Homo sapiens: one gene and its partner. The protein of the gene in region 1 purifies or fractionates together with the protein of each later gene. This does not show direct contact. Each region holds a gene or a part of one and is shown on either strand. Other genes may lie near its edges. The genes, in order: ALDH8A1 and RPUSD2.

Region 1 (15,969 bases):
CCTGCAGCAGGAATGAACTGGTGTGCATGAGGAAAAGCAAGAAGGTGGGTGGGGCTGAGGCTGGAAGAGGAGGCAAGGACAGGAGGTGTGTGGTAAGAGAGGAGGTCAGGAGGCCAGCAAGGCTCTATCGTGCAGTCTCATAGGTTCATAAAGAGATTACGTTTTATTCTCAGTATCATGAAAAAATAAGGGAAGGTTTTAAGCATCAGAACGATATGATCAGATTTACATTTTAAAATGCCCATTCTGGCAGCCATGGGAAAATAGGATGGAAGGAAACAAGTGTGGGAAGAGAGCAGAGGAGTTAAGAGAATATTCCAGAAGTCCAGATGCGTGTAGGTAGCTGGGACCAGGGAGGCATCCATGGAGATGCAGAGGAGTGAAAAGGACCCACTGAGTTCAACAGATTCTTCCAGGGGCACGGGACCTCCGAAGTGTGATGAAGTTGGCACAGATGCACTGGAGAAGTGATGAGATTCAGGATATACCTTAAAGACAGAACCAACAGGACCTGTCGATGGAAAGAGAGGGCAAGAACAAGAGTAGGCCGCAGAGTGGATGGTGGTGTTGTTCCCTGGAAGGGCAGACACGAGGTGGAAAGAGGATTGGTATTGCAAGGAAGGGAGAGGGAGGGAAACGAGAGCTCTGATTTGGACACGCTGGGTTTCAGATGCCTCACAGACATCAAATAGAGATACTGAGTGTACAGGGGAGGGGTTATAACAGATTTCTCAGTGAAAAATAACCCTATCATTTGAACATAGCATGTAACAGTTTAGACTTAGAGTTGGCATGTAACCACATTCTAGACTTTCAAAGCATTATTTATGCATGAAAAGTACAGAAATGCATAAATATTTTCACCATGTTTGTGTCTGACTTCACAACAATCTTAGAAAATAGAAGGTTCCTGATTGTCTTGGTATTTGTACAAAGGTACATTGTCCAGATTAAACTGTTAATGTTTTGAAATAACACATTCTTTTTGCAACCAGGATCGCTGTTAGGATCATCTCCATATCTAGCTTGGGAAATGTCTAAACACTTGATAGTTTCATTTGCGCAAGCGCCCTGTGACATCAGGGAAGGAGAGCATGACGAAGAGGCTAGAGGGGTTTACCCAGTTCCCTGTTGCTCTGTGCCTAGAAAGCGTAGGTAAGCATACCAAGATGCCCACAAGAAAGACTTTGGAGAGATTAAGAAAAGGACAGTATCATTCGTTGAGTGCCTATCGTCAAGCCAGACACTGCGCAGGGTGCTTTCCTCATTATAAATAATTCTGTAGCCTGTTAGCTTTTCCAGTTTACAGGTAGGAGAAAAAGTTTTGAATTAGTACATGTCCAGGGTCACACAGAGATGCTTCAAAAAAGCCAATTACATTCAATTAAGGAAGAAATATGCACGACACGGAATTCATCGCTCAGCTAAATCAAGCTGCTTTATTTATTTTGCCTAAAATCCATTTGTGACCTTGGATTAGCCAATTAGTTAGGCGTATGTCTCTTTCCCTATTTCCTTTTTAAAACAACCCCAAAAGGAAGGTTCTCTGGGCAAACTCAAATCGTAGCACAATTCTGGTAGGAGAGAAGATTACACTTCTTATCTCCATGTTCAGAATTTGTTTTGTTTGTTTGTTTGTTTGTTTTTGAGATGGATTCTTGCTCTTATCTCCCAGGCTGGAGTGCATTGGTGCTAACTCGGCACACTGCAACCTCCACCTCCCGGATTTAAGAGATTATCCTGCCTCAGCCTCCCGAGTAGCTGAGATTACAGGCGCCCACCACTATGCCCAGCTAATTTTTGTATTTTTAGTAGAGATGGAGTTTTGCCATGTTGGCCAGGCTGGTCTCGAGCGCTCCTAACCTCAGGTGATCCACCCACCTCGGCCTCCCAAAGTGCTGGGATTACAGGTGTGAGCCACCATGCCTGGACCCTCAGAATTTGTTTAATACAGAGTTTACCTTTCTCTCATCTTAGTTTCTCAGTCCACAAAATTTGTCCCTCTGTTGTTGTCTGTAAGCCATGAAAACACTTGGTTTAAATGTTCACCTGAAACTTGCTTAATGATTAAATTAGTTGTATTGTAAAAGTATATTGTCTATTGATCCAGAAATTATATTTCTAGCCACTTCAAGAGTTACAGTGAGAGAAATAATTACACTTATGATTATCATGAAGATAATAATTGAAAGTAACATTTTTCACTCTATACTCATGAAAACCCTGTTAGAAGACATCATTATTGTTCACATGATTTTATTAGTGAAGCAATGCAGTTTCAAAAGTTTATGCACTATTCAATGTTACCTGAGTTAGCTCAATATAGACATCTCTCATTTCACTGCTGTTTCCTTCTATGAAGTTCTAAGTCTTTGGCCTATGTTTTTACTCTCTGTTAAAATAAAAATATCCTTTGAAGAAAATCATCCAGGGTTTATGTACACCTGCTATATCCTGGGCAGTATTCTAAGCATTGACATTGAAAATACCACACAAAAGCAGGCAGCGTTTCCATCTTCTTGCAGCCTACTGTTTAGTTGATCTGGTGTAGTGTTCTTAACTCTTTGGAATGCCATAGCCTTAAAGAATCTGACAAAAACTACAGAGCACAGAGAAACATCTGTTATGTAATTTCAGGAGCTACAACGATGCCCTGAAGCTGATCCATGAATCCACGCCAAGAAATCTTCTCTAGTCAGTTTCAGGTATTTGGAACTCAGTGGATGAACGCATTTTGAATACTTTTGAAATGAGAGTAAGGTTTACTGGGAATAGGACATTTGAACGACAAGCAAAGACAGGGTTTAAGAAAAGAATAAAAGACAAGACAGGGCAGCTGTGTGAATAAAGAAATGGAGATGCTTGGAGCAGCAACATCAATCATTCCACCCATGGCTGGTACCTGATAAAAGCTGTGCAACTCAAGAAGAGGAGTTTGCTGAACAGAAGCTGTGACTCTGCAAGGCCACTAATTAATGTTAAAATTGAGCAGAGAGTTAAGGGAATCACACAATGTACTGATCCTGCTTTCTCGGAAATGGCACTGGATTGACTGGCTTGCTCCCAGGCATTGCACTGTGATAAAACAGATCCAGCTTGACAGGGCCATGGAGGGGAGGGAGAAGAACCCCCGGGGACATACCTGGTTGGCAAAGCTGGACCTGACGGTTGCCGGAATGCACTCATCCAGGTTGGCGTCCTCAAAGATGATGGCAGGATTCTTGCCCCCCAGCTCCAGGGAGAGCTTTTTGCAGTGGGGAGCGCTCAGCTGGGTGATCCGCTCAGCGGTGGGCTGGCTCCCGGTGAAGGAGATCAGGGGCACCTCTGGGTGGGACACCAGGGCCTCACCCACCCTGGGCCCGGTTCCAAACACAATATTGACCACACCTGGTGGAACACCTGGATAGGAAACAGTATCAGTTATAGTAATTCTCAGTATGTTGAAGAGTTCAAGTTACTTGGAAATTCTCCTTTAAAGTCCAATCGCTTGAATGGGAGTGGGTAGGGATGGAGGAAGCACTTGGGTTTTACAACACTTGGAACTTCTATGGCTGCCTCTGGTTTAATAGCAAAGCAAAAACCACAGATTCACCTCTGCCCACAGTAAACACCAGGTGGGATTCCACTGGATGCTTTGCCCTAGAGAGATGCAGGGTGGAACATATTTTAGGTGATTCATTCCATAATACTGGCTAGGCCTTAGGGGTTGAGGATGCAGAGATAGTCTCAGGCAGGTCAAGCCCACTAGGGGAGCAGCACCCTGCTCCATCTTGGTGTCCAGGAGTCACAATGCTGTGTGAAAACATTAAGTAGAGAGGTGTATACATGCTGCAGAGGTGCAAAGAAGAGATTGACTATCTTGGCCCAGGGAAGCAGGGCAAGACTCCCCAGGGAGGGTGGGTTTCAGGTTGGAAGTCATGTCCACCATGCTTATAAATAGCATCATAACACTGTAGTGCCAACTTACAAGTACCACAAACAACCAAAAATGGGTGCCCCAATCTTTTCTATCACAAGACTCTGCTACCCTGTATCTTCGTGCATTTATGCATGTGTTTTCTTGTTTTATTATTTTATTTATTTATTTATTTTTGAGATGGAGTCTGGCTCTATTGCCAAGGCTGCAGTGCAGTGGCACCATCTCGGCTCACTGCAACCTCTGCCTCCCAGGTTCAAGAGATTCTCCTGCCTCAGCCTCCCGAGTAGCTGGGATTACAGGCGTGCACCATTACACCTGGCTAAATTTTGTATTTTTAGTAGAGAGGGGATTTCATCATGTTGGCCAGGCTGGTCTCGAACTCCTGACCTCAAGTGATCTGCCCACCTCGGCCTGCCAAAGTACTAGGATTACAGGCATGAGCCACCGCGCCCAGCCTATCCATGATGTTTTCTGGACTTACTTGTTCATTGCCTGCACACAACTAGAAGGTACACTAGCTAAGGGCAGAAACAGTGTCTGTTCTTTGCTCTCCGTTGTTTACTCTGTGCCACAGCCTAGTTTGGCATTGAGAAATAAAAATAAAATCCTAAGCTCCCCCAGTTGACTGAATGCAGCCTCTCTTGGCCAAAGCGATCCCAGAGAAACCTTAAAAACTGAGTTCCCAGCCATTATGGGATGAGAGGTCAAACACGCCATAGTATGACTCTTCCTTATTAATCTTTAACCAGAATTCTTTCCTCAGTGTAAGCAGAAACCAGCTCTAAAAAACAAGAAATGGATAATCTATTCCTTTATCGCCTTTAGCTAACCATCTGAAACTGCAACCAAATTTTCCTCCCTCTTTGCAGTTTGGATGTGACAGCTCACCAGTCTCACAACACATCCCTTCCTAAAAACTGATCACCATCTCGACTGGTTTTGGCTGACTTCCCGAGGATACGTAGTGAGGGTTTTCATGTCCTCTGCTTCACCTTTTGACATCAGAGGGCCAAAAACTCAACCCTCGGAACATGCTAAGGCTGCCATTTTTTGAGCACGTGATCCAGAATTCATGTCCACCATGTATATAAACGCATCATAACACTGTTATATAACACTACTCAGGAGGCTGAGGCAGGAGAATCTCTTGAACCCAGGAGGCAGAGGTTGCAGTGAGCCGAGATGGTGCCACTGCACTCCAGCCTTGGCAATGCAGCCAGACTCCATCTCAAAAATAAATAAATAAATGAAATAATAAAACAAGAAAACACATGCATAAATGCATGAAGATACAGGGTAGCAGAGTCTTGTGATAGAAAAGATTGGGGCACCCATTTTTGGTTGTTTGTGTTACTTGTAAGTTGGCCCTACAGTTTTATGAGCGCATTAAGCTCATCTGTGCATGCACCTGTTTCCCCTTTCATAAATATTCATGACTCCTCCCATATCCTACTGAATGTGAATATTCAGCCACTCTGCTCAGGATAAATTTCTGTTCCCTTTGCCCCTCCTCCAAGTACTTGTTCTCCGCTTTGGGCAGAGGCTACGCTTCCCAGCCTGCAAGATGGCTAGCCTGCAGGCTGCAACCCTTTATAAGAAATAAAACCCTCCTTTCCAAATGCATGAACCTTATGATTCTTCAGTTGATAGCACATGGAACTCAGACCAGTAAATGCAAACATTAGATAGGGTGCTTACTGTGGACTCATCACTGCTATCCGTGACTCACACACTTCAGTCTTCACAACAACCTTAGGATGTAGGTAGTTTTATTACACTTAGTTCACCAGGAAGAAATTTGAGGGAAAGTGAGATTGAATAACAATCAGTAAGCAGCAAAGCTGACAGGTTAATGACTGTTAAGTAAATGAATGAGTGAATGAATGCTTAGTGTACGTTATTCAAATTAGAAATGGTTCATGAATGGGGAAGCTTTAAAAAGAAAATCATCTTTATAATATCCAAAAAGAAAGTCATCTGTATAATCACGCTGTGTCTAGGCAGTTCTTAGGGTCTGCCTGGAGGTAGCAGAGTTTATTCCCTCTATTTCCTCAGGCCTGACCTACGGTAGGTGCAGAAATCTTGCAGCATCTCGGCTTTGTGACCTGCTTCCTTGCTTCTGGTTTCCTTCCCTTTGCTCCAGGTTAGACAATCTCTCCTCATTAGAAACATACTCCTTTGGATACAACCCATTTCTTCCAGAATCTACTTTTAAATTATAAATAATATAAATACTAATTTCACACTGATGATCCATTATCATCCAGAACATTCTCCCATACAGCCACAGCCTTGGCCCAATCACCTTGAAGCTACAGTGAAGGTCCCATCCCAGTGAGTCCTCAGGAGACAGGTGGGAAGATTCCACAAGTTGTGATGGTGCCTAGCAGAGCCCCACTTCTTTTTTTTTTTTTTTTGAGATGGAGTCTCGCTCTGTCACCCAGGCTGGAGTGCAAAGGCGCAATCTCTGCTCTCTGCAACCTCCGCCTCCTAGGTTCAAGCGATTTTCCCACCTCAGCCTCCTAAGTAGCTGGGATTACCGGCACTTGCCATCATCCCCAGCTAGTTTTTGTATTTTGGTAGAGATGGGATTTCACCACGTTAGCCAGGTTGGTCTTGAACTCCTGACCTCAGGTGATCCACCCACCTTGGCCTCCCAAAGTGCTGGGATTACAGGCATAAGCCACCATGCCTGGCCAAAGCACCACTTCTAAGCATTGCATCTCTTTACCCAACATGCACATTTGTTGAAATCTAGCTTAGGTCAGTCCTGGATTGTAGGTCACTGTCAGAGGAGTGGCTGGCACCATGTGAGAGCACCCCAGCTTTGGGTTGGGGCAAAGGAAAGTGTGGAAGGAGAGGATCCCCCTCAGTAGGTGATGCGACGAAACAAGGACAAGTCTCCCACAGTTTCCTGGGTAGGGCCCCACATCTCCACCAGTGATGGGGCATGCATGTGGGTGGATGGGGTGTGGGGCAGGAGGGGGTGGACTGTTAGGCTTTATCAATCCTGAAGGCAAAAAATGAATGGAATCACTGCTAATGTTCAGAGTAGCATTTTAACTGAGGGTGAGAGAGAATGCGGAAGCACTGCATATTTATCCCCACAGTAAAATGCGCTCACTGCGGCAGCGGATTGCTTTCCCCACGACAGTATTATCATTTTGACTACATTCCCTTGGGCTTGGATGCTAATGTCAGCTGGCCATTATTTCTCAGTACCATTTTGACATTTTATCCAGAAATTAATGGAATTTTTCTTGAGATGTCTGCCCTCTAACCTTGAAGAGATTCTGGTGATAAGAGAAGGAAAGCAGTTTAACTGACAAATAGCAATTTAGCAAAACTCAGGGGAGGTGGCTAACAGACAAGTTAGGAACAGACGAGAACAGACTAGAAGGAAACCCCTCAAATGTAGGGGCTTGGCAGGGTGGCAACAAGAAAAATTTTAGGCTTAAATAGAGCACACACACACACCCACCTACACACACACATCTCCTGCTCCACACACACACCTAATGGGAAGGGCCAGGAAAACGCAGTCAGTGGGCACTCCAGGAATGAGGGCAAATTTCCAAGAAGAAATGACTATTCCAGGAATCCCACAGAAGTATTCACTGTGTCATCTTAAAAATGAGTTTATTTTAAAGGAAGTTTATCTGTCAAGTCTGTTTAAATGCCCAGGACTAGAGGAGCTAACTCTTTAAACATCCAGAACGAATTAGTTATTTTCGCTTTTCCCTCCCCTACTAAAAGCTTCTCTTACGTTGCTCTAAAGCAGATGACACAGATGTGGTTCGCATTCCTTCCAATCCCAGTGGAGAAACTGAGGGCTCAAGAGAGGAGCAAGGTGAACATGACCCCCTCTATATTTGTCAGGGGAGGAAGTTTCAGCCCATGGAGGAAAGAGGAGAAGGGCTGTCTTAGTTTAATGGGCTTACTAGTTCCCAAGAAATAAAATCAATGCTGTGCAGAGATGGAAACAGAAACTGTCATGCAGGCCAGGTTCAGGGCAGACTGGCTGGGAAAGATAACTCATCATCTATCCAGACGTTCTTGGTCTCAGGAGAGAGTGGTTAAGGGAACACGGCTCTGCACGCCACCCCTGCCTCCAAATCCCAGTAGAGGGCAAGCCCCAGGCCTAGTCCACTCTGGGGAACCTGCAGTCACCAGGCAGGGAAGAAGTATGTCGCGCCTTTGCAGACACCACAGACCTCATTTTACAAAGAATGGGATTAGACTGTGAGGTCTTTTGTAGGGGAGGAACATGGGAAGGGTCGGCACATTTAAATGATATACCCCGCCCCACCCCCTCCACCTCGAAGCCTGGGAGCTCCATAGATGACAAATCAGAGTCCTAGGCTGGGAGGCCTCATTCCTCTGGAGGACCCTGGGATCGTAAGGCCCAGTGCCGTTCCCTAAACAGCCTCAGTTTTGAGCCTTCATCTTCCTCGTGGAGTAAAGAACTGGCTAGGGTTTACTGGAAGTTAATGTGTATGTCTGTGCTTCTAAGAAAGGTGTTCCGAAGCGGGAGAGAGGGACGGACTCTTACCCACCGGGCATTCTGTGGATACAGGAGAGCCCAGCAGTGCCTCTCTATGGGCTGAAAGGCAGCAAGGAGACCAACTAGAAAGACAGTGAGTCTGTCTCCCCCACCCAGCACTCCTGCCCTGGCCGTGGGGTGACATAGCAAAAAGACCTCACATTAAGGGGACTTCTCACAGGAGGGCTGCTGGGGTCTCCTGCCTGCTGCCTTCAAACAGTGCCAGCCTGTGCCTGTGCGGAGCTACAGCCCAGAACAAAACCAGGAGCGCATCCTGAATGCGGCCAATAAACTATTAGCAGAAAAAGAACAAGGAGCAAACGTGTGAACCTTGATATGCTAGGAAGAGGCCATATTGTATTAGCTTTCCAGTAGCAGTCCCAAAGGCAGGAAAAACTGAAGGATGTATATTTAGATCTCTTGAAATCGGGCTACTTCTACTAGGTATTCTATAGCCAAGCAAACTGTAGGTGTACCTAGCAATATTCTTATTGTCATCAGGATTAACTTGTGATTCAAGATTTTATTTTATTATTATTATTATTATTTTATTTTTTAATTTATTTTTTTGAGACGGAGTCTCACTCTGTCGCCCAGGCTGGAGTGCAGTGGTGCAATCTCGGCTCACTGCAAGCTCCGCCTCCTGGGTTCATGCCATTCTCCTGCCTCAGTCTCCCAAGTAGCTGGGACTACAGGCGCCCGCCACCACGCCCAGCTAATTTTTTGTATTTTTAGTAGAGACGGGGTTTCATCGTATTAGCCAGGATGGTCTCGATCTCCTGACCTCGTGATCCACCCACCTCAGCCTCCCAAAGTGCTGGGATTACAGGCGTGAACCACCACACCTGGCCCCAACTTAAGATTTTAATTGACTCTCTGGAGCAGGCAGGTGTCTTTGATTTGATGGGGCTGTTTAAGTCTGCGTCACTATTGTGCTGCCAGTCGCCCACCCTGGGGAGTGGAACTTGCCTGCAGTAGCACCGTTCTGGTGTTGAAGACAGGAAGCAGGGTGAGGGAACCCTGTGGGTGGAGGGGATTTCCCAGACAAGGATCAGAAAGACAAAGCCCATGATGTCACTGGAATCGATTGTGCTGCTGAGTGGAAGATTTCTATAAACTATAGGTTTGCTCCAACTCTGTGCCTGCCCCCCAACCCCAACACCTAATTACCTGCTTTATCCAGGAGTTTGCACAACATCCACGCAGTCACTGAAGTCAGCTCACTGGGCTTGGCTATCACAGTGTTCCCTGCAGCCATCGCTGGAGCTATCTTCCAGGTCAGCAAGTAGAGTGGCAAATTCCAGGGGCTGATCAGACCAGCTAAGGGATGAGAGCAGAAGCACTGCCTGTGACGGCATACCCCTCTGAGGTGGACTGGCCAAGTGGGGTTATTAACGCAAAACTCCTTCATGCTGCAGAAAACTTAGCTTACTCTTCTAACTTCTTCCCAAGCTTTGCTTATTTGTAGCCACTTTCAGGGAAATAATTCTAAAATATATTCCAAGCAACTGTATCTTTTAAAACAGAGTAAAGTCAATATGATTTCCCCATTTCTTGGCAGTTCATGATTATGAACAACAGCAATATAAACTCCAGAGCTAAAGAGTTGTCACCTATCATATACCCAAAGAAATATAAATCATTCTATTATAAAGATACATGCACGCGTATGTTCATTGCAGCACTTTGCTATTCACAATAGCAATAGCAAAGACATGGAATCAACTCAAATGCTCATCAATAATGGATTGGATAAGAATATGTGGTACATATACACAATGGAATACAATGCAGCCATAAAAAGGAACGAGATCATGTCCTTTGCAGGCACATGGATGAAGGTGGAAGCCATTATCCTTAGCAAAGTAACACAGAAACAGAAAACCAAACACCTGCATGTTCTCACTTATAAGTGGGAGCTGAACAATGAGAACACATGGACACAGGGAAAGGAACAACACACAGCAGGCCCTGTCAGGGGAGAGTCGGGGGGAAGAGCATTAGGATAAAGAGCAAATGCATGCTGGGCTTAATAGCTAGGTGATGGGTTGATAGGTGCAGCAAACCACCATGGCACACGTTTACCTATGTAACAAACCTGCACGTCCTGCACGTGTACCCTGGAACTTCAAAAAAAAATAAAAAATAAAAAAACAGTTGTCACCTGTCACTAAACAGTTCCAGAATGTGACGCATTTTGAGATTTATAGACTGAGCTTTACTTTTTCAAAAATGTCTCCTTCCCCATTATTTTAACGGTCTGGCTGTTATTTCTTCTAACATGTTTCTTTACCTTTACTTCAAATCTGTCATGGGTTGAGACATAAAATCTCAAGCTTTATATAATTATTCATAAAATAGGGGCCAATGAGTTCTGAGTGTTCCATGTGAGGGCCCTCCTATCAGTAAAGCCAATAACCTTTGGTGCATGGACTGTGACATCCATTTTGGCTATTTAGAATATTTTTAAATAAAAATTCTCTCTAGATTGTCACTTGTATCCTGACCAGATAGATTTGCTGGATGAGTAACGTAACCAGCAGCTAGAATGTGTCTCCATGCAATATTCTGAACCTATCCAGGTTTCCAATCACAAAACAAACAAATATAAAAATCTACCTTCTGAAAGGAAATTGATTCACCTTATTTTATACTCTTCCCTCAAGCCTGTGCTATGAAAGTAAATGCATCTTTTATATTATTAAATTTCCCACTGAAAAATCCATTCTTTAGGGGATAAAAATATTTTTGCAGCAAAATATATTAGCACACTTCCTAGGAGGAGGTAGAGCTTTCCACAATGCCTTGAAAACATAATTTCTGAAGGTTTCAAGTAACCAAAGCAATGAGATGTCCCAATTGTTTTCCTTTTAGCTTATATTCATAAAATGTAATAAGCTAAAAAGATGATTTTTTTCTCCGAGGAAACAGTGACATCTGGTGGAAGGTTTTAGTCATCACAGACATTTATTTATACGTTCTTCCAAAGGTCAAGAGGCAAAGGAATGCATGAAGTAAGATAATTCTCAGTAGAGGCTTATTTATCACACACCTGGCACCATACTACATGCCCTACACTTATTAATTTATTTAATGTACATAAATAGTTCTTTCTTTTTTTTTTCTTTTGAGACAGAGTCTCGATCTATCACCCAGGCTGGAGTGCAGTGGCACCATCTCAGCTCACTGCAACCTCCGACTCCCAGGTTCAAGTGATTCTCCTGCCTCAGCCTCCCAAGTAGCTGGGACTACAGATGCATGCCACCACGCCCGGCTGGGTTTTTTTGTTTTGTTTTGTTTTGTTTTTTTGAGACCGAGTCTCACTCTTGTCGCCCAGGCTGGAGTGCAATGGCACAATCTCAGCTCACTGCAACCTCGGCCTCCTGGGTTCAAGCAATTCTCCCTGCCTCAGCCTCCCAAGTAGCTGGGATTACAAGTGCCCGCCACCACATCCAGCTAACTTTTTGTATTTTTAGTAGAGATGGGGTTTCGCCATGTTGGCCAGGCTGGTCTCGAACTCCTGACCTCAGGCGATCCGCCAATCTTGGCCTCCCAAAGTGCTGGTATTACAGGCATGAGCCACCGCGCCCGGTGAATTTTTGTATTTTTAGTAGAGACGGGGTTTCACCATGGTGGCCAGGCTGATCGAATTCCTGACCTCAGATGATCCTTCTGCCTCAGCCTCTCAAAGTGCTGGGATTACAGGCGTGAGCCACTGCGCCCAGCCTGATTTTTCCTTTTTTAAATATAAGTAGAAAAAAAAATCCTGGCATGTGAATTTACATATTTACTCTTAGCATCATTCTTTTCCCTATGATTTTCCAGATAAGTCATGAACATGAGGCCTGGCGTGGTGGCTCACGCCTGTAATCCCAGCACTTGGGGAGGCCGAGGCGGGAGGATAACTTGAGGTCAGGAGTTTGAGATCAGCCTGGCCAACATGGGTGAAACCCTGTTTCTACTAAAAACACAAAAATTAGCCGGTGTGGTAGCTCGCACCTGTGGTCCCAGGTACTCAGGAGGCTGAGACTAGAGAATCACTAGAATCCGGGAAGCAGAGGTTGCAGTGAGCCGAGATCATGCCACTGCACTCCAGCCTGGGCGACAGAGCAAGACGCTGTCTAAAAAGAAAAGCAGGGAATTTGACACAAAGAAAATAAACTAGAAATAGATCTTTGAGGCCAATGGATTTTAGAAAAGAAAAATATCAGCTCTTCCTTTTCTTTAACCTGTTCCTTGAGGACAATGCCATAGAATGTTGTGAGCATCTGCAAGCATAACCGGGAGGTGGGCTCTCACTGAACAGCACTCACCGACTCCCACCGGGGCCCGCACCGTGTAGTGCATGCAGCCCAGGTGGTCCATCTGCGTGCACTCTGACGTGTGGTGCAGGCTGGAGGAAGCGAAGAACCTGAAGTTCTGCACAGACCGGGGAATGTCCATGGTTCTTGCCAGTGCTAAGGTTTTCCCTGTAAGAAGCAAACAACATAAAGCACTATCAGCTAATGGGGACACTCTATCCATCAGCTTCCACTGCCCACGCGTCCCAACTCACACTGAAACAGCCTGGATTCCTTCTAGCCCGGGGCAGGCATTCCTTGACCTCACAAAGACTTGATCATGGTTTGATAAAACCATACAATATTTAGGTATAAGGTTGGAAACTGAGGTGGGGGGTTAAAATTGAGTCAATAATCTTTGTTCTGTGAACTGAACACATCATTCTCATCACCAGTTTGCCAGATGCTACCACTTCACCCACACAAACTCTTGCAATTCAAAATCACCAGGCTTTGTACCTGCGACAAAGGCATTGAAATACGGGTGTTAGGACAGTTGTAATTGCACAGCACAAAACGAAACACTTTTATACACATGTAATGTGTATTTCATGACCTCCCCACACATGGTAGAGTCATCAGAAGAGCGGCTGGGAATGCCCTGGCACGGGATGCTGTGTGGCACCTGCTTGCCCATCACATGCCCTGCACGTCCTAGCTCCTGGATGGAACAGAAAGAGAAACAGAAGCTTACCTAGACTGCTACTGAGTTCTCTTTAGCGATGCAGGGAGCCTGGCCAGGAACACCAGCAGAGAACTATTTTCTTTTTAAGGGCTTGGACTCAGGCTGCTTTCTGATTTTTGATTGGTTTATGGCACACATGTAATTTTTAAAACTCTTGGCTTATCTTAACAGATATTCTTGCAAAAATTTACAAATATTTACTCCATTACTCTGACCTCTGGGAAAGAGTGGGAAAAAAAAATGAGATGTGTCGGGAGTGGAATGGTGACTGACATATCAGAAAACATCCTAAATAATCTGACTGCATAACTGCTTTTCAAATTATCTTTGCTTTGAAATTCTCTGCTTAGAATGAGTAGGAGACTGCATGATCAGCCCTAGTTCTTCATCTCTCCCTATATCCATGCCCTTTGCTGTATATATTTGCACTTCCTTTCATCCAATGAACAGAGTATATTTCTTTGCCCCTCAGCTTTTGGATCCAGCCATGTGACTTTCTCTGGCCATCTGAATGAGACAGGGCTGGGCCAGCCACAAGTCCTGGCCTTCCCAGGCCTGGAGCAGGGGAGGGTTTGCTCTCCACTTCTACTATTGCCAGAGGAGCAGGCACATGGGCTGGCCTGATGGCCCCAAGAGGGATAACATGAATAATCAGAGATGCCCTGAGTCCCATGTTACAGTTAAGAGGCAACTCTCACCTTGGTCTTTAGACTCGGCCTGGGCAAACTCCTCCAGGGACTGCTCCAGCAAATCCGCCACCTGGTTCAGGACCCGTGAGCGCTCCTGGGGGCTGCGGGATGACCAGCTGGGAAAGGCTTCTCTGGCGGCCTTGACCGCGGCTTCGATCTTTGAGGAGCAAATGGGAGAAAGGGTCACCTTAAAGCTGTTAGTCCTTGGGGGATGGACAAAACCAGAATCCTCAGGTCTCCACACACCTCATTTTTGTTTTGTTTTGTTTTGTTTTTTAGATGGATTCTCACTCTGTAGCCCAGCCTGGAGGGCAGTGGCGCAATTTTGGCTCACTGCAACCTCTGCCTCCGGGGTTCAAGTGATTCTCCCACCTCAGCCTCCTGAGCAGCTGGGATTACAGGCATGTGCCACCATGCCCAGCTAATTTTTGTATTTTTTAGTAGAAAGGGGGTTTCACCATGCTGACCAGGCCGGTCTTGAGTTCCTGAATACAAGTGAACCACTCGCCTCGGCCTCCCAAAGTGCTGGGATTACAGGTGTGAGCCACTGCACCTGGCCCACCCTAATTTTGAATATTCAACATGTCCCAGTGCTGAGCCACCCACAAAGTAGATGACACAGGTGTTTACATGACCAGCAAAGGAGGGGTACCATAGAAACAAAGAAACGCGCTCCATTTCAACCAATGCATCCTGAATGTAGTAATCAGATCATTAGAAAGAAGCTATTTGAATTTTAACATATGTACATTTTCAATCACTTCAGAAACTAGAATTTTTAAAAATATTGTGGGCCAGGAGTGGTGGCTCATGCCTGTAATCTTAGCACTTAGGGAGGCTGGGTTGGGAGGATCGCTTGAGCCCAGGAGTTTGAGACCAGCCTGGTCAACATAGTGAGACCCTGTCTCTACACAAAGGTTTTTTAAAAAATTAGTTGGGCGTTGTGGTGCATGCCTGTAGTCCCAGCTACTCAGGAGGCTAAGGTGGGAGGATTACTTGAGCCCAGGAGGTAGAAGCTGTAGTGAGCTGTAATTGTGCCACTGCACTCCAGCCTAGGTGACAGAGTAAGACCCTGTCTCAAAAAAATGTATATGTTATACATATATACTATATATATATAGTATATATAGTATGTATATATTATATATACAGTAGAAGAAGAAAATTAATCTAGATATGTGGAATCTCTAAAGCTTCTAACTCAGCTCTGACATATCTTATAAAGTCTGAAATTTTGGGTGAAATCACATCCTCAGATTGTCATTTTCACTTGAAATGACTAATTATATTTATAATTTATTGACTAATTTTTATATAAGGGAATATGCTAAATACTTTACACAAATTATTTTTATTTAAGTCCTTTCAAAATTCTATAACATGAGTATTGCTATGCCCATTTTACAGATGAGAAAACTGAGACATAGAAACTCAAGCAATTTGCCATAGGTCACACAGCTAATAAGTGGCAGAATCAGGACTCAAACCCAGATTTTGGTGGTTCCCAGGACCACAGGTTGCTCTGCCTGCTGCCTGATTCTGCCCAGTGGAAGAGGCTTTATTGGAGAAGAGGAGATTTGTGGCTGGACAGATGGCTTGGGTACCTCCTTTTAGAGTTACATACAAAAGGAAACAATATATGTATGGGAAGGTATGGGCAGGGTCAACTCATGGCCAAAATGTTATGTAGACAAAATAATTTTCAAGTCCTCTTCTGCCTTTCTCTTCTCTCCGGCAATGTCTAAGTAATGCCTTCTCCAGAGATGACAAATCCCTAACCCATGTCTCACTCC
Region 2 (16,108 bases), on another chromosome or scaffold:
GGCTACCACATGCAGAATTTTCATCCCCTAGGCCATGGCTGCAAGCATTGCTATCCTATCTTTGGTGGCTTCCTGGCAAATTTCACATTACTCCCTATCTTTCTATCACTCCACCTATGTTTTTCTCATATCTTTTTCCTCCAGTACATCATTAACAAAATCCCTTTTGTTTTTGCAAGATATTTCTTAGCTATCATGCAAGCTCTCTTCTGACTCTTCTTTCTGTCTTTCCTCAGAAGCTCCTTCTACCTGAATTGCCTTTCCTTCCTCAAAAAATTATTCCCAGGTTTGTAGCTGATCTTCGACAAAGCATATAACAACACAAATTGGGGAAAGGACATCCTATGTAACAAATGGTTCTGGGAAAACTGGCTAGCCACCTGTAGAAGAATAAAACTAGATCCCTATCTCTCACCTTATACAAAAATCAACTCAAGATGGATATAAGACTTGAAATCTTCAAAATTCTAAAAGAAAACCTAGGAAAAACTCTTCCAGACATTGGCCTAGGCAATTTTTATTTTGAGATGGAGTCTCGCTCTGTTGCCCAGGCTAGAGTGCAGTGGTGCGATTTCAGCTCACTGCAACCTCTGCCTCCTGGGTTCAAGCGATTCTCCTGTCTCAGCCTCCCGAGTAGCTGGGACTATAGGTGTGCGCCACCACGCCCAGCTAATTTGTGTATTTTTATTAGAGACAGGGTTTCACCATGTTGGCCAGGATGGTCTCGATCTCTTGACCTTGTGATCTGCCTGCCTCGGTCTCCCAAAGTGCTGGGATTACAGGCGTGAGCCACCGTGCCCGGCCTAGGCAAAAAATTTATGACTAAGATCCCAAAAGTAAATGCAACAATAACAAAAATAAATAAATCGGATCTAATTAAACTAAAAACTTCCGTACAGCAAAAGAAATAATCAGAGTAAACAGACAACCCATGGAATGGGAGAAAGTATTTGCAAACTATGTATCTAACAAAGGACTAATATCCAGAATCTACAAGGTGCTCAAACAAATCAGAAAGAAAAAAACAATCCCATCAAAAAGTGGGCAAATGACATGAATAGACATTTCTCAATGGGATTTGAGAAGATATACAAATGGCTAACAAACATATGAAAAAATGCTCAAAATCACTAATCATCAGGGAAATGCAAGTCAAAATGGTGAGCTACCACCTCACCCCAGCCAGAATGGCCACTATTAAAAAGTCAAAAGACAATAGATGTTGGCACGGATGTGGTAAAAAGAGAATCCTTATACACTGCTGATGGGAATGTAAATCAGTACAACCTCTATGGAAAACATATGGAGATTTCTCAAAGAACTAAGAGTAAATCTACCATTTGATCCAGCAATCCCACTACGAGGTGTTTACCCAAAGGAAAAGAAGTCGTTATATCAAAAAGATACCTGCACGCATGTTTCATAATTCATAATTGCAAAGATATGGAACCAACCTAAGTGCCCATCGAGCAATGAGTAGATAAAGAAAATATGGAATATATACACCATAGAACACTACTCAGCCATAAGAAATAATAAAATAATGTCTTCTGCAGCAACTTAGATGGAGCTGGAGGCCATTATCCTCTAAGTGAAGTAACTCAGGAATGGAAAACAAAATGCCATACGTTCTCACTTATAAGTGGGAGCTAAGCTATGGGTACACAAAGGTATACAAAGTGGTATATTGGCCGGGCACGGTGGCTCACACCTGTAATCCCAGCACTCTGGGAGGCCGAGGTGGGTGGATCACGAAGTCAGGAGTTCGAGACCACTCTGACCAACATGGTGAAACTCTCTATCTACTGAAAATACAAAAATGAGCCAGGCGTGGTGGTGGGCGACTGTAATCCCAGCTACTCAGGAGGCTGAGGCAGCAGAATTGCTTGAACCCGTGAGGCGGAGGTTGCAGTGAGTCGAGATCGTGCCACTGCATTCCAGCCTGGGCAACAGAATGAGACTCCGTCTCAAAAAAAAAAAACAAAACAACAACCAAAAAAAAAACAAAACACAAAGTGGTATACTGGACTTTGGAGATTCAGAAGTGGGGAGGTTTGGAGAGGGGTGAGGGATAAAAAACTACACATTGGGTACAATGTCCACTACTTGGGTGATGGGTGCACTAAAATCTCAGACTTCACCACTATACAATTAATCCATGTAGCCAAAAACCGCTTGTACACCAAAAGCTATTGAAATAAAAAAATTAGGGCCAAGCGCGGTGGCACACGCCTGTAATCCCAGCACTTCAGGAGGCCAAGGTAAGCCTTATTCCCAGGTTTGGCTTTGTGAAACATGGATGAATCTCATGGTTGTTCCACAATAAAAGGATATTACAATTCTAAAGACTGCCCCTCACCGCCCTAGACTGATATTTCTTTTTCCCCTAGCATGGGACAATTTGAATCTCTTTCCTGTGTTTGGAATCTCTCTAGATACTTATACTATGGCCGCAGGACAGGGTACTGAAAATGTGTTCAGGAAATATTTTTAAAATAAAATGGCTAACAAGAGGCAGAATGAATCTTATGTCAATATGCTCCCATTCTCAACAATCAATCTATTTATGTAAGTTTTTCAAACTCCAGCATCAGAAATCCACATGTAGCCCTGGGGCCATCACATTTTCTTGCAGGATGGCATAAGGTTTAACACTTTTGAGTTATTTGAATATACGGGCAACCAACAGTAGGCAAGAGGGTTCTACAGAATGCCAAGAAATCAAACACAGAATTTAGATGAACTGGGCAGAGGCAGGAAGTGACAAAAACTGTTTTAAGAGCTGTTCGGGTAGTCACGGCGGCTCATGCCTGTAATCCCAGCACTTTGGGATGCCGAGGCAGGTGGATCACCTGAGGTCAGGCATTCGAGACCAGCCTAGCCAACATGGTGAAATGAAACCCCATCTCTACTAAAAATACAAAAAATTAGCCGGGCATTGTGCCAGGCGCCTGTAATCCCAGCTACTCGGTAGGCTGAGGCAGGAAAATCGCTTGAACCCGGGAGGTGGAGGTTGCCATGAGCTAAGATCACGCCACTGCACTCCAGCCTGGGCAACAAGAGTGAAAGTCTCAAAAAATTAAAAATAAAAATAAAAAAAGATCTGTTCAAGGAAAAGGGGGCTGCTTCCCAACAGCCGGCTTGAAACATCCCTTGGAATTATATCTGACAGATACGTGTGACAGGAATAACAACAACACAAAAGAATAGGAAACCAAGTTTGATGTAACAGAACTTCAATATGCTTCCCTAGAGCCGTCAAACTTACCTAGAGATGCTAAATACACTTCTGAATCCTGCAAGGGAGCCCAAGGCTTTACAGCTGGCTGGACAGCAAAGTCAGCCACCTCCCTCTGGCCTTCACCTTCAGGGCAAGAATCCACAAAGGAGTCTGAGAATGCATTGTTGGCACCATCTTCTTGTTCAGGATTTGGCAGACAGGAACAAATTTCAGCCCAGAGATCCTGGCCAGATCTTGTGGCTGTAGAGTCAGCGCTCTCAAACATTTTCATTTGGAATCTGAGCTATAAAACAGAAGCTCAAGTGAGTAAGAACTGGCTTTAAGAATACAGCATAAGGTTGAGCACAGTGGCTCACGACTGTAATCCCAACACTTTGGGAAGCCGAGGCAGTCAGATCATTTGAGGCCAGCAGTTCGAGACCAGCCTGGGAAACATGGCAAAATCCCATCTCTACTAAAAATACAAAAATTAGACAGGTGTGGTGGCACATGCCTGTAGTCCCAGCTACTCCGGAGGCTGAGGTAGGAGGATCACCTTAGCCCAGGAGATAGAGGCTGCAGTGAGTGGTGATCACGCCATTGCACTCCAGCCTGGGTGACATTGCGAGGCCCTGTCTCACAAATAAATAAATAAAATAAAAATAAAAATGGAATTCCTACAAGCCATACACAAAAGGCAGATACTGTGATTCCACTTATATAAGGTACCTGAGTAGTCAAATTCATAGATACAGAAAATAGGATGGTGGGAGCTGGGGGCTGGGAGGTAGAAAGAATGGGGAATTACTGTTTAATGGGTACACAGTTTCAGTTTGGGAAAATGAAAAAGTTCTGGAGGTGGATGGTAGTTATGGTTGCACAACAATGTGAACACCACTGAATCATACACACAAAAATAGTTAAAATGGTCAATTTTATGCTACATATATTTTAACACACACACACACACACACACACACACACAAATCTGTAGGGCATTTCCAGGTTGGACAACCAGCCTGCACTTTTCTCCAAAGATCTCCAAAATGCAACAGTTCTATCTCCAGTCAATTAAATTCTGTTTTTTTTTCTTTCTTTCTTTCTTTTTTTTTTTTGAGACAGAGTCTCGCTCTGTCGCCCAGGCTGGAGTGCAGTGGCGCTAACTTGGCTCACTGCAACCTCCGCCTCCCGGGTTCACGCCATTCTCCTGCCTCAGCCTCCCAAATAGCTGGGACTACAGGCACTCGCCACCACGCCCGGCTAATTTTTTGCATTTTTTAGTAAAGACGGGGTTTCACCGTTTAGCCAGGGTGGTCTCGATCTCCTGATCTTGTGATCCGCCCGCCTCGGCCTCCCAAAGTGCTGGGATTACAGGCGTGAGCCACCGCGCCCGGCCCCTAAATTCTGTTTTCAACAGAACACAGACTAAAGGTCTTTCCACAGTTCCATATACATGAAGATCCTGCTTGGTAAAAAGTGTCTGTCAGAGAGTACTGTTACAATGCAAGGGCTGTGTGCTCAGCGCATGCAGTTCAGCCGTATGTCTCATGCTCTTATTTTAATACAATCACTGAAAGGTAGGTATTTTCACCATTTTACAGATGAAAAAACAAGTTCAGAAGGGTAACTTGCTCTAGGGCACATTACTGATATGTGGGGAATCCTTGACAGGAAAACCAGATCTGTGCTGCTCCAGAATCCATGTTTTTATCAAATACCATCCTGCTTGTTTGGAAAATATAACGAAAGCAGCCCAAGCACGGGCAGGTAGGAAAAGCTACGCAAAGAGCCTGGAGGCTTTTATAACTATCTAGGCATATGAGACAGGCTGACACCTTCTTTCAAGAGGAGACTTAGAAATCAGGAAGGCTGCCTGAGGCAAGGTCTGAATAATGCCAGGAGACAGAGCCCAGCCAGCGTAAAGGCCGGAAGTAAAAGGGACAGCTATGACACGGCGGTCCTGGGTGAACTGATGTCTAGCGCTACAGTGAACCCCCAACCCGAATTCGTCTAAAGCCACCCAAAACCAAAACTTTGCTCACACCAGAGCCCCGCATGGCCCCTTACCCCAGGGCAGGGCGTCCAGAACCACGCAGGAAATTCCGGCGTCCAGATCCCAGGCCTCAGTCGCTCAGGTCTCTAGGGCTGTCTGGACGGGATGAATCAGGTCCCAAGGCCTCTATGTGGTATTCCGGGGCCGGGCCAGAGTGGGAGATCCAAAACGCTGGGCACCCCAGCCCCTCCTCACTTACCGTAACAGCTGCCCAGTAAACGCTTGGCTCAGCTCTGTCGCCTGTAGCCCGGAGGAAATCGGGAGGGGCGGAGTCCCCTAGTGACGGAGCCCAGGAGTCCTCCAACTACCTTCCCACCCGACGATGTTCTGTGCGTCGATTGGTCGAGAGGAGCTCAGCGTGGTGAAGAAGTGAGGAGCAGCAAGAGGCGAGCGGTGGACGGGGCTCTGGTTGCCGGGAAACGGTGGAGTCACGTGCCCTGAGCATTGCCCCTCCCCTCCCGAGGGCCAGGTTGATTCCTTGCAGATCCAGGGTTCCAGTCCCTGCTTGGATAGGGAAGTCGTTTCCAAGACTTTTGACTTTTCCTAGTCGCCGGAGCCAGTTCACCTCCTCCACAACTTTCTCTGTCGGTGTTTGTCTTCTAAAAATTTCACCCCTTCGTTACCCAAATTAGAGCACTTCGGCGGCTTCTTTCCTTACTCTCCCAGGAGACTCGTGTCTCATTCATCAAATTATGAAGCTTTCCTTCATTCATTTAGTCAATAGATACCAAGCACCTGCTGTGTTCTAAGCATTGTGTTAAGCGTGAAGTTAAGACACATATGACTTGATATAAGTCCTGGAGATCCTTACAGCTTAGTAGTGTAGGAAGGGGGTCCGCCATGGAGGCATAAAAGTTTACAAATAACAGTAAACAGTGATAGACAGCCGGGCGCGGTGACTCACGCCTGTAATCCCAGTACTCTAGGAGGCCGAGGCAGGTGGATCACCTGAGGTCAGGAGTTCGAGACCAGCCTGGGTGAAACATGGTGAAACTCTGTCTCTACTAAAAGTACAAAAATTAGCTGAGCATGGTGGCACATGCCTGGAATCCTAGCTATTCGGGAGGCTCAGGCAGGAGAATCGCTTGAACCGGGAAGGCAGAGGTTGCAGTGAGACAAGATCGCACCACTGCATTCCAACCTGGGCAACAGAGCAAGACTGTCTCAAAAAAAAAAAAGGAGGGGGGCGTTGAGGATTATAGAGTATATGATGGAAGTGTGGCCAGAGTACATAAAGGAGAGAGTGGTCATAAGAAGTGTGTGTCAGAATGCTTTGTTGTTGTAGTTGTTAAAGGAGATGACCTTTGATATCCTTCAGGGGATAGATACCAGCTTGTTCATTGAGATCGACCCCTCCCCATCCCCAGCTTCCAGGATCAACACCAGTTACTCTCTCCCAAGAAACACGTGATGAAAGACATCAGCCAACCATCAGTAGCCAAGTAACTTGGCTGAGGAAATAGTTCTCACTCCAGCCTGGGTGACAGAGCAAGACTCCGTCTCAAAAAAAAAAAGAAAGAAAGAAAAAGAAAACAACAACAACAAAAACAACATAGTTTTAGGATTACAGATGTGAGCCACTGCGCCCAGCTAAAATACAATTTAAAATTCAGTTCCTGGCCGGGCTTGGTGGCTCATGCCTGTAATCCCAGAATTTTGGGAGGCTGAGGGGGTGTGGATCACCTGAGATCAGCAGTTCGAGACCAGCCTGGCCAACATGGTGAAACCCTGTTTCTACTAAAAATACAAAAATTAACTGGGCGTGGAGGCGCATGCCTGTAATCCCAGCTACTCAGGAGGCTGAGGTAGGAGAACTACTTGAACCCAGGAGGCGGAGGTTGCGCCACCACATCCGGCCTGTAATCCTAACACTTTGGGAGGCCAAGGTGGATGGATTGTTTGAGCCCAGTTTGAGACCACCCTAGGCAATGTGGCAAAACCTCGTCTCTACTAAAAATACAAAAAATTAGCCAGTCATGGTGGCACATGTCTGTCGTCTCAGCTACTAGGGAGCCTGAGGTGGGAGGATCACTTCAGTTTGGGAAGTCAAGGCTGCAGTGAGCCAAAATCGTGCCACTGCACTCCAGCCTGGGTGATGGGAGTGAGATCTTGTTTCAAAACTTGTTAAAATTTTAATTAATTTAAATTTAATTAGCCACATGTGGCTATTGTACAGCACATGGCTAATGGTGATCCTATTGTATAGCACAGGATTGGAGAATATTACATAGTTCACAGAACCTCAAGGTGAGTGGAGAGTCAGGCTTTAGGTCTATACAGCCAGGGACAGTATCTGAATCTCACTGAGAGACTGCTCAGGGAACACCCCACAGCCACTGAACATCTATAGCTGGCATTATTCGTCGATTGGGTACTTGACACAAGAACCTCCCCGACTGTTGGCCTCCCAGATTAGATGCCTCCAATGCTACCTTGTTAGACACGGATTTCACACTGAGCCTGCTTCCGCGGCTGTGTGCCTCTGAACCAAAGCCTCTGTCTAAGAGATAGAGCCCAGGTCAAATGCCTATGTCCAAGCTGCAAGAGAGTGTGGGAAGGCTCTGGCTTCTACCTTTTGGGGGCAGTAATGAAATGTGAGAAATTCCCCACCCAAAAGAAGGGTGTTCGGAAGATGCTGGATGTTTACAGAATATGACAAATGTCTACTCTACATGGTCTATGCCAGTGCTTCTCAAGCTTTAATATGCAGAAAAATCACCTGAGGATCATGTTAAAGTGCAGATTCTCATTTAGTAGGTCAGAAGGGGAGGAGGAACAAGATTCTGCTATGTTTTCTGTCTCCACAGTTTTGCCAGGCACTAGTCCAAGTATTTTACTTGAATTAACTAATTTAATTCTCCCACCCCAATCCTATGGAGCAAAGAGGCTAGCTAAGAATACATACTTTTCTTTTGGATAAGGTTCTGCTTTCACTGTAAATATCTTAATGAAATGATGCACTTGAGAGATGATGTCCCTCCTGTGAAGTAGTTTGGTTCTAACATACCCCACAATCAATGGAGAATTCTACCTCTTATTTCTGGAGGTAGTCAGGAATCAGACTTTTCAGCATATGGAGTTCTGCAGCTGTGGATACCTCAGCTGCAGTCCCTCAGTTAGTTTGGTGAGACTAATGACTTGAAGAAGGAATTTAGCTAAAAAAGATTTCCCTTTCTCCTCTCCAGAATACAAATGCCTAGGATAAGAATTAGACTGTCTTTTTTTTTTTTTTTTTTTTGGCAAACTAACATTGAAATGCCTCCTTATTTGGAAGAATCCCACTCTGGATACCAAAGAGGGTTAGATTCTTGGCCGGGCGCGGTGGCTTACGCCTGTAATCCCAGCACTCATAATATAAAAATTAGCCAGGCGTGGTGGTGCGTGCCTGTAGTCCCAGCCACTCAGGAGGCTGAGGCAGAAGAATGGCTTGAACTCAGGAGGCGGAGGTTGCAGTGAGGTGAAATCGCTCCACTGCACTCCAGCCTGGGCGACAGAGCAAGACTCCGTCTCAAAAAAAAAAAAAAAAAAAAAAAAAAAGAGGGTTAAATTCTTCCATCTCCAGGCACCCTGGAAGTGAGGGCTCAGAGCAATGAGGTTTGGCTGATGGAAGTCCTCCCCTGCAGGACTCTTAACCTTGGAAGAGGGACACAGAGACACAGGGAGATTTAGGGGTCTCCAAGGGGTGGCAGGGCTGCAGGAAAAAGAGTCCTTTGGCACAACATAGTTTCTTGTGTCTACTGCATCCCAACTGGGTTTCTTCCCTGACATGTCTGAAGCCAGGCTCTCAAAAGGCTTGGTTTCCCTTGATTTGGCCCTTTTTCTGAGCCTAGTCTCCAGTTGTCTTGTGAATTCTATGAGGCACTAATATACTTTCCATAATTCTATCTCTGATGAAATTAGCCAGAGTTGGTTTATTTTGCACTTAAGAACCCTCGCCATATATCCTCTGATCTATTTGCAGTTTTAATCTCAGGATGGAAGCATGTGGGAGGCGAATGGGGATCACTAATCCTTCTCATGCTGTTAGGGGGAAACACAGGTGTGAACACATTGCTTCTGGGGTGCTTGTGTGTGTTTTAAATACATATATAACAATCTTACTGAGATACAAGTCACATACTATAATATTGACCCTTTTAAAATATAGAATACAGTGGGTTTTAGTATATTCGCAGAGTTTAGCAATCTTTATTCTGGTTGTTAGTTTTTGTTTTGTCTTAAATAAAGCTCCTTTCAAGCGTTTCTTCAGACCCAAGGGACTACTCGGAATTTACACGACCTACTCCTGTCATGGCCTTTACACGGAGCAATTCCAAGGGTTTCCTTTATAAATAACGTCGTATCTCCCTAATAGGAAGACGTCTGAGTAAGGTCACTTTTGGTGAGACATTTACAGTCTCTCATCTCTAAGCTCACTCAATTCACCTAATTTAATTCGAGCAGCTCACTCATTCGCTCACTTATCGCAGACCCCGCCTCGGGACTGGGCCTCCCTGATTCGCTGGGGCCGAGTGACGTCCTCAGATCGCGACCCTGGGAGTGGAGTGGGGGCAGCGTGGTTATGTGGCTGGACCGCCGCGGATGGCTCAGGGTTCTTGGACATTGGCGCTACGACCTTAGGCGCCCTAGCTTTACCAGGACTTGGAGTGGCGATAAGGGCCCAATGGCAGAAACAGTGTCTACCCAGGTTGGGACAGAGGGCGGGCTGAGGGCTTCGCATCAGCAAAACGGTGACGCTGGTGGCGACGCGAAGGTTGAGCTGTCCCCCGGGCCCCCGAAGCCGGCTGGCCGGGAAGTGGAGCCGGCCCCAGTAGGCGGGGAGCATCCCTCGGCTGCAGCCCCAGGCCCGGGCAAGCATAAGAAGCGGCGGGGCGCAACCAGGGAGCGTGTCGTGCCGCCCCCGAAGAAGCGGCGGACCGGGGTGAGCTTCGGAGATGAGCACTTTGCAGAAACCAGTTATTACTTCGAGGGCGGCCTGCGTAAGGTGCGGCCCTATTACTTTGACTTCCGGACCTACTGCAAAGGTCGCTGGGTGGGCCACAGCTTGCTGCACGTCTTCAGTACCGAGTTCCGAGCTCAGCCCCTGGCCTACTATGAGGCCGCGGTCCGGGCGGGCCGCCTGCAACTCAACGAGAAGCCGGTGCAGGACCTCAACATCGTGCTCAAGGTGGAGTCCTGATGGGGCTGGCCAGAAGCGGGCGAGGAAAAGGGGCCGGGTTTTGTTTTGTTTTGTTTTGTTTTTTAGTCTTAGTAAAGCATAGGTACTGGATTAAAATCATGGCAATTCTAAAGCGTTCTCGCTTTCATTTGGAACACTATTTTAGCCCGTTTCCCACCTCCGCAAGTGGCCAGGGTGTCTGTGCTTCAGGACTCAGCCTGTTTATCCTCTTCCTCAAGGCAGCTTCCTTGTTTCCAAGGGACAGAAGTTGGAATTTTCATAATTCCTTTAAACACCGTCTTGTGGCAAGGGCACTGATCACTTTACCCTGCGTTGTAGATCTCTGTGCAAATAGTAATAATAGGGGCTATCATTTATGTCTCTTTACTGTGTGCTGGGCACAAAGTTAAACATTGTATGTCCACTAATTCTAATGACAGCCTTGTGAAGTAGGTATTGCCACTCCATTTTACCTCTGAGGAAACTAAGGAAACTCACAGGGGTAAGGCTATCAACAGTGCCACTACCAAAGCCTATGTTCCTATAACTACTACTTAAACTATTTAACATAGAGTTATGAGATGTCAGGGATAGAGACTAGAATTGTTTAGCCCAGTGCTTTGACTCCTTTAAAATTCCATCACATCTATGAGGTACCAGACACCCCTGTCAGAAGTAACACTGTTTACCTCTCAGTAACACTAGTTTACCATGGTTGTGAGTGGAGAAAAGGCGATTACAGCATTTGGGGAATGGATGGTTTTGGAGTAACTTGTTCCATTGATCAATCGATTTGCGTCAATATATCATACATTGACGAATTCCCTCTCCTATCCCAATTTCTAAAGCACAGATCTGGTCTAACCCTCACATTCCACAGGAAGCAGAGACCCAGAAAAGATAAATGACTTGCCCAAGAGCATGTAGCGAGCCTGTGGCAAATCCTGGTCTAGAGCCCATATCCCTGGACTTAAGCCTTAGTTTTGTTTGTTCAAGATCGTAATAAGTGATGATTTATGGAGGTTTTTTCCTCCATTAAAAAAATTTTACCTTGATTATTTATTTTTTTTTTTTTTGAGACAGAGTCTTGCTCTGTTGCCCAGGCTGGCGTGTAGTGGCGCGATCTCGGCTCACTGCAACCTCCGCCTCCCAGGTTCAAGCGATTCTCCTGCCTCAGTCTCCCAAGTAGCTGGGATTACAGGCATGTGCCACCACGCCTGCTAATTTTTGTATTTTTAGTAGAGACAGAGTTTGACCATGTTAGCCAGGATGGTCTTGATCTCGTGATCCACCCACCTCAGCCTCCCAAAGTGCTGGGATTAGAGGCGTGAGCCACTGCGCCCGGCTAAAAAATTTTACCTTTTAAATACCTTTATTGTAGAGAAAATACAATTAGCAAAGCCAAAAAACATTCATAATCTAACCACCCAGAGATAACACAGTTAACATTTTTGCATATGTCCTTCCAGTACTTTTTCAGTGCCAGCTATCTGCCTGTGTCTGTCTGTATTTTTACAAAATGAGATCACACTCTGCACACTGCTTTTTCAGCCCAAGATGTGCTTTCACCATTTTTCCATGTCAGTGAGGAACAGGGGAAGCTGGATATGAAGTTGACTGATTACAGGCTGCGGTCCCTAGGCTGACTTATTACCTATGTCTTTGACAGGACAATGATTTCTTGCGGAACACAGTGCACAGGCATGAGCCACCAGTCACAGCAGAGCCCATTCGCCTGCTAGCTGAGAACGAAGATGTGGTGGTTGTAGACAAGCCTTCCTCCATTCCCGTTCACCCCTGTGGCCGCTTCCGACACAACACAGTTATCTTCATCCTAGGCAAGGAGCACCAACTCAAGGAGCTACACCCCTTGCATCGGCTTGACCGCCTTACCTCAGGGGTGCTTATGTTTGCCAAGACAGCTGCAGTCTCTGAGAGAATTCACGAGCAGGTTCGGGACCGGCAGGTGAGTCAGGCTTTTGTCTCCTACAGGCCACTTCTTGGGCTCACGAATGCTCTGTGTCAAAAGGGCATCATGGAGTTCCGAAGTGGTCCTTCATATTTATCTGGCCATCCTTCCTACCTTCCTACCTTAAGGCAGGTCAACACCTAAAGTGCCAAATGCAGGATATCTCATATGTTTCCAAAAAAATCTTTAGAGATGGCATACACTGCCTCTCTTAGTAGTTTGCTATTTTGAAGCTTTAAAATGCTGACAAGGCCAGGCTCACACCTGTAATCCCAGCATTTTGGGAGGCTGAGGTGGGAGGATAGCTTGAGCCCAGGAGGTAGAGACCAGCCTGGGCAAAATAGGGAGACCCTATCTCTACAAAAAAAAAAAAAAAAGGCCAGGCGCAGTGGCTCACGCCTGTAATCCCAACACTTTGGGAGGCCGAGGCGGGCAGATCACGAGGTCAGGAGATCGAGGTCATCCTGGCTAACACGGTGAAACCCCGTCTCTACTAAAAAAAAATACAAAAAATTAGCTGGGCGTGGTGGCGGGCACCTATAGTCCCAGCTACTCGGGAGGCTGAGGCAGGAGAATGGTGTGAACCCAAGAGGTGGAGCTTGCAGTGAGCCGAATCGCGCCACCGCACTCCAGCCTGGGTGACAGAGTGAGACTCTGTCTCAAAAAAAAAAAAAAAAACTTACCCTGGCATGGTGGCACATGCCTGTAGTCCCAGCTACTTGGGAGGCTGAGATAGGAGGATCACTTGGCCATGGGAGGTTGAGGCTGCAGTGAGCCATGAGCATGTCACTGCGTTCCAGCCTGAGCTATAGAACAAGACTCCGTCTCAAAGAAATAAATTAACATAAGAAAATAAAGTGCTGACAGGCTGAGCAAGGCTTTTAAGATTATGGGGAGAGCCTGCTTGGTGAAAAGATTCTAGATGTAGTTGGAAAAGTCTTGGGTAGAGGAGTTTAATGGTAATGATTGTTGTCCTGAGACTTGTAATTCTGGATCTGAATCATAATACATTTATTGAGTGCATGCTATATACCAGGCTTAGTATCAAGCACATTAGAGCCTAACTTACTGAATGCTTATCACAGCCCAATGAGGTAAATGCTTTTCTTTTCTTTTCTTTTTTTTTTTTTTTTTTTTTGAGATGGAGTTTCGCTCTTGTTGCCCAGTCTGGAGTGCAATGGTGTGATCCTGGCTCACTGCAACCTCCGCCTCCTGGGTTCAAGCAATTATCCTGCCTCAGCCTCCCAGGTAGCTGGGATGACTGGCATGCGCCACCACGCCTGGCTAATTTTGTATTTTTTAGTAGAGACGGGGTTTCTTCATGTTGGTCAGGCTGGTCTCGAACTTTCGACCTCAGGTGATCCACCCACCTCAGCTTCCCAAAGTGCTGGGATTACAGGCGTGAGCCACCTCACCCAGCTGGTAAATGCTTTTCTAATTTCACATTTTCTAGATGAGTTAGTAGGATTTAGAGGTTAAGTAATGTACCCAAGATCGCAAAACTGGCGAATGGTAGAGCTGGAGTTTGAATTTTCTGACACTGGTCCTTATCACTCCACAAAGAGTTTGGACTCCATGAATTTAGGCTTTGTACTGACTTTCTCCCTCTTCCCTCCTATGTAGCTGGAGAAGGAGTACGTGTGCCGGGTGGAAGGGGAGTTCCCCACTGAGGAAGTGACCTGTAAAGAACCCATCTTAGTGGTGTCTTACAAAGTAGGGGTGTGCCGTGTAGATCCCCGGGGCAAGCCCTGTGAGACAGTGTTCCAGAGGCTAAGCTACAATGGCCAGTCCAGTGTGGTACGGTGCCGGCCACTCACAGGCCGCACACACCAGATTCGAGTCCACCTTCAGTTCTTGGGCCATCCCATTCTCAACGACCCCATCTACAACTCAGTTGCCTGGGGTCCTTCTCGAGGCCGGGGCGGCTACATTCCCAAGACAAACGAGGAGTTGCTACGGGACCTGGTAGCAGAGCACCAGGCCAAACAGAGCCTGGATGTGCTAGATCTCTGTGAGGGTGACCTGTCCCCAGGACTCACAGACTCTACGGCCCCCTCCTCAGAGTTGGGCAAGGACGACCTGGAAGAGTTGGCTGCAGCTGCCCAGAAGATGGAGGAAGTAGCTGAGGCAGCCCCTCAGGAGTTGGACACAATAGCCTTGGCATCAGAGAAGGCAGTTGAAACAGATGTCATGAATCAAGAGACAGACCCACTCTGTGCAGAGTGCCGGCTGGTGCGACAGGATCCCTTGCCCCAAGACCTTGTGATGTTCCTACATGCCCTACGCTATAAAGGGCCAGGCTTTGAGTACTTTTCACCAATGCCTGCCTGGGCACAGGATGACTGGCAAAAGGACTGAGGGTGTGGCCAATGGAGGGATTGCTTCTTGGGTTGTGACAAGGATGGGCTATAGGGCAAGGGCTGACCCCATGGGCTAGTACTTGGGGTTTCTATAGGAATGAGGACGGGCTTCTAAAGAGACCTGCTCATACTTGCTACCTCCTTCCAGTGGGAATTTGGAGACTTTTTGGTTTGTAAATATATCCCTTTTTCTAACATCTTTGATGTCTGGTTTTCTTCCGGCTTCTTTTTTATTACTGATGTAAAATTCACATAACATAAAATTAACCACTTTAACTAGCCAGGCACAGTGGCTCATGGCTATAATCCTAGTACTTTGGGAGGTAGAAGTGAAAGGATCACTGGAGGCCAAGAGTTCAAGGTTAAAGTGAACTGTGATTGTGCTGCTGCACTCCAGAGCCTAGGTGACAGAGTGAGACCCTGTCTCTTAAAAAAAAAAAAAATTAACCAATTTAAGATGTACAGCGTAGTCACATTTAGTACATTCACAGTGTTGTACAACCATAACCTCATATATTTCCAAAACATTTTCATCACCCCAAAAGGAAACCTGTACCCATTAAGTAAGTGGTCACTTTCCACTCCCCTTCCACCAGCCTCTGGCAACCACTAATCTACTTTCTGTCTGTTTGGATTTGCCTGTTTATTCTGGACATTTTATATAAATGGAATGATAAAACATGTGACCTATGTCTCTGTTTCCCTTGGCATAATGTTTTCAAGGTTTATTCAACTTGTAGCATGTATCGGTACTTCATTCTTTTTTTATGGCAGAATAAGCTGTTGTATGGATATACCACGATTTGTCTATCTGTTCATCAGTTAATGGACATTTGGGTTGTTTCCACCATTTCATTATTGTGGATAGTGCTGCTGTGAACATTAAATATGTTTTCAGTTCTTTTGGGTATATACCTCACAGTGGAATTGCTGGGTCATATGGTAATTCTATGTTTAAATGTTTGAGAATCCACCAAACTTTTCCACAGCAGCTGAACCATTTTATATTGCCACCAGCAAGCATAGGGTTTCAATTTCTCTACATCTTCACCAACATTTGTTTTGTTTTGATTATAGTCATCCTAGTAGGAGTGAAGTGGCATCTCATTCTGGGTTGTTAGTCTTTTTGTTGTGGAGTGTAAGTGTTCTTTATATATTCTGGATGTGAGAGTCTTAGCAAAAAGACTAACAGCCCAACTTAAAAATGGGCAAAGGATTGGAATAGACATTTTTCCAAAGAAGATATACAAATGACCAGCTAACATATGAAAAAAAAAAAAGCTGAACATTATTAGTTATCAGGGAATGCAAATCAAAACTGTGGCATTAGTATAAGAATAGACATAGA

The links.
Region 2: the proteins of ALDH8A1 (region 1) and RPUSD2 purify together in Homo sapiens (affinity purification with mass spectrometry; 3 studies listed by BioGRID and IntAct, with this or other methods). This does not show direct contact.

Annotation. Positions count from the first base shown.
Region 1 is NC_000006.12:134,929,634-134,945,602, forward strand, and holds part of ALDH8A1 (2-aminomuconic semialdehyde dehydrogenase), read right to left. Parts: intron 14,334-15,969; coding exon 14,186-14,333; intron 12,932-14,185; coding exon 12,776-12,931; intron 9,783-12,775; coding exon 9,633-9,782; intron 3,400-9,632; coding exon 3,143-3,399; intron 1-3,142. UniProt on the Homo sapiens protein: Catalyzes the NAD-dependent oxidation of 2-aminomuconic semialdehyde of the kynurenine metabolic pathway in L-tryptophan degradation.
Region 2 is NC_000015.10:40,559,504-40,575,611, forward strand, and holds RPUSD2 (pseudouridylate synthase RPUSD2), read left to right. Parts: upstream 1-9,795; 5' UTR 9,796-9,834; coding exon 9,835-10,440; intron 10,441-12,100; coding exon 12,101-12,397; intron 12,398-14,023; coding exon 14,024-14,758; 3' UTR 14,759-15,446; downstream 15,447-16,108. Other genes in the region: CCDC32 (coiled-coil domain-containing protein 32), read right to left, coding at 3,269-3,512. UniProt on the Homo sapiens protein: Pseudouridine synthase that catalyzes pseudouridylation of mRNAs.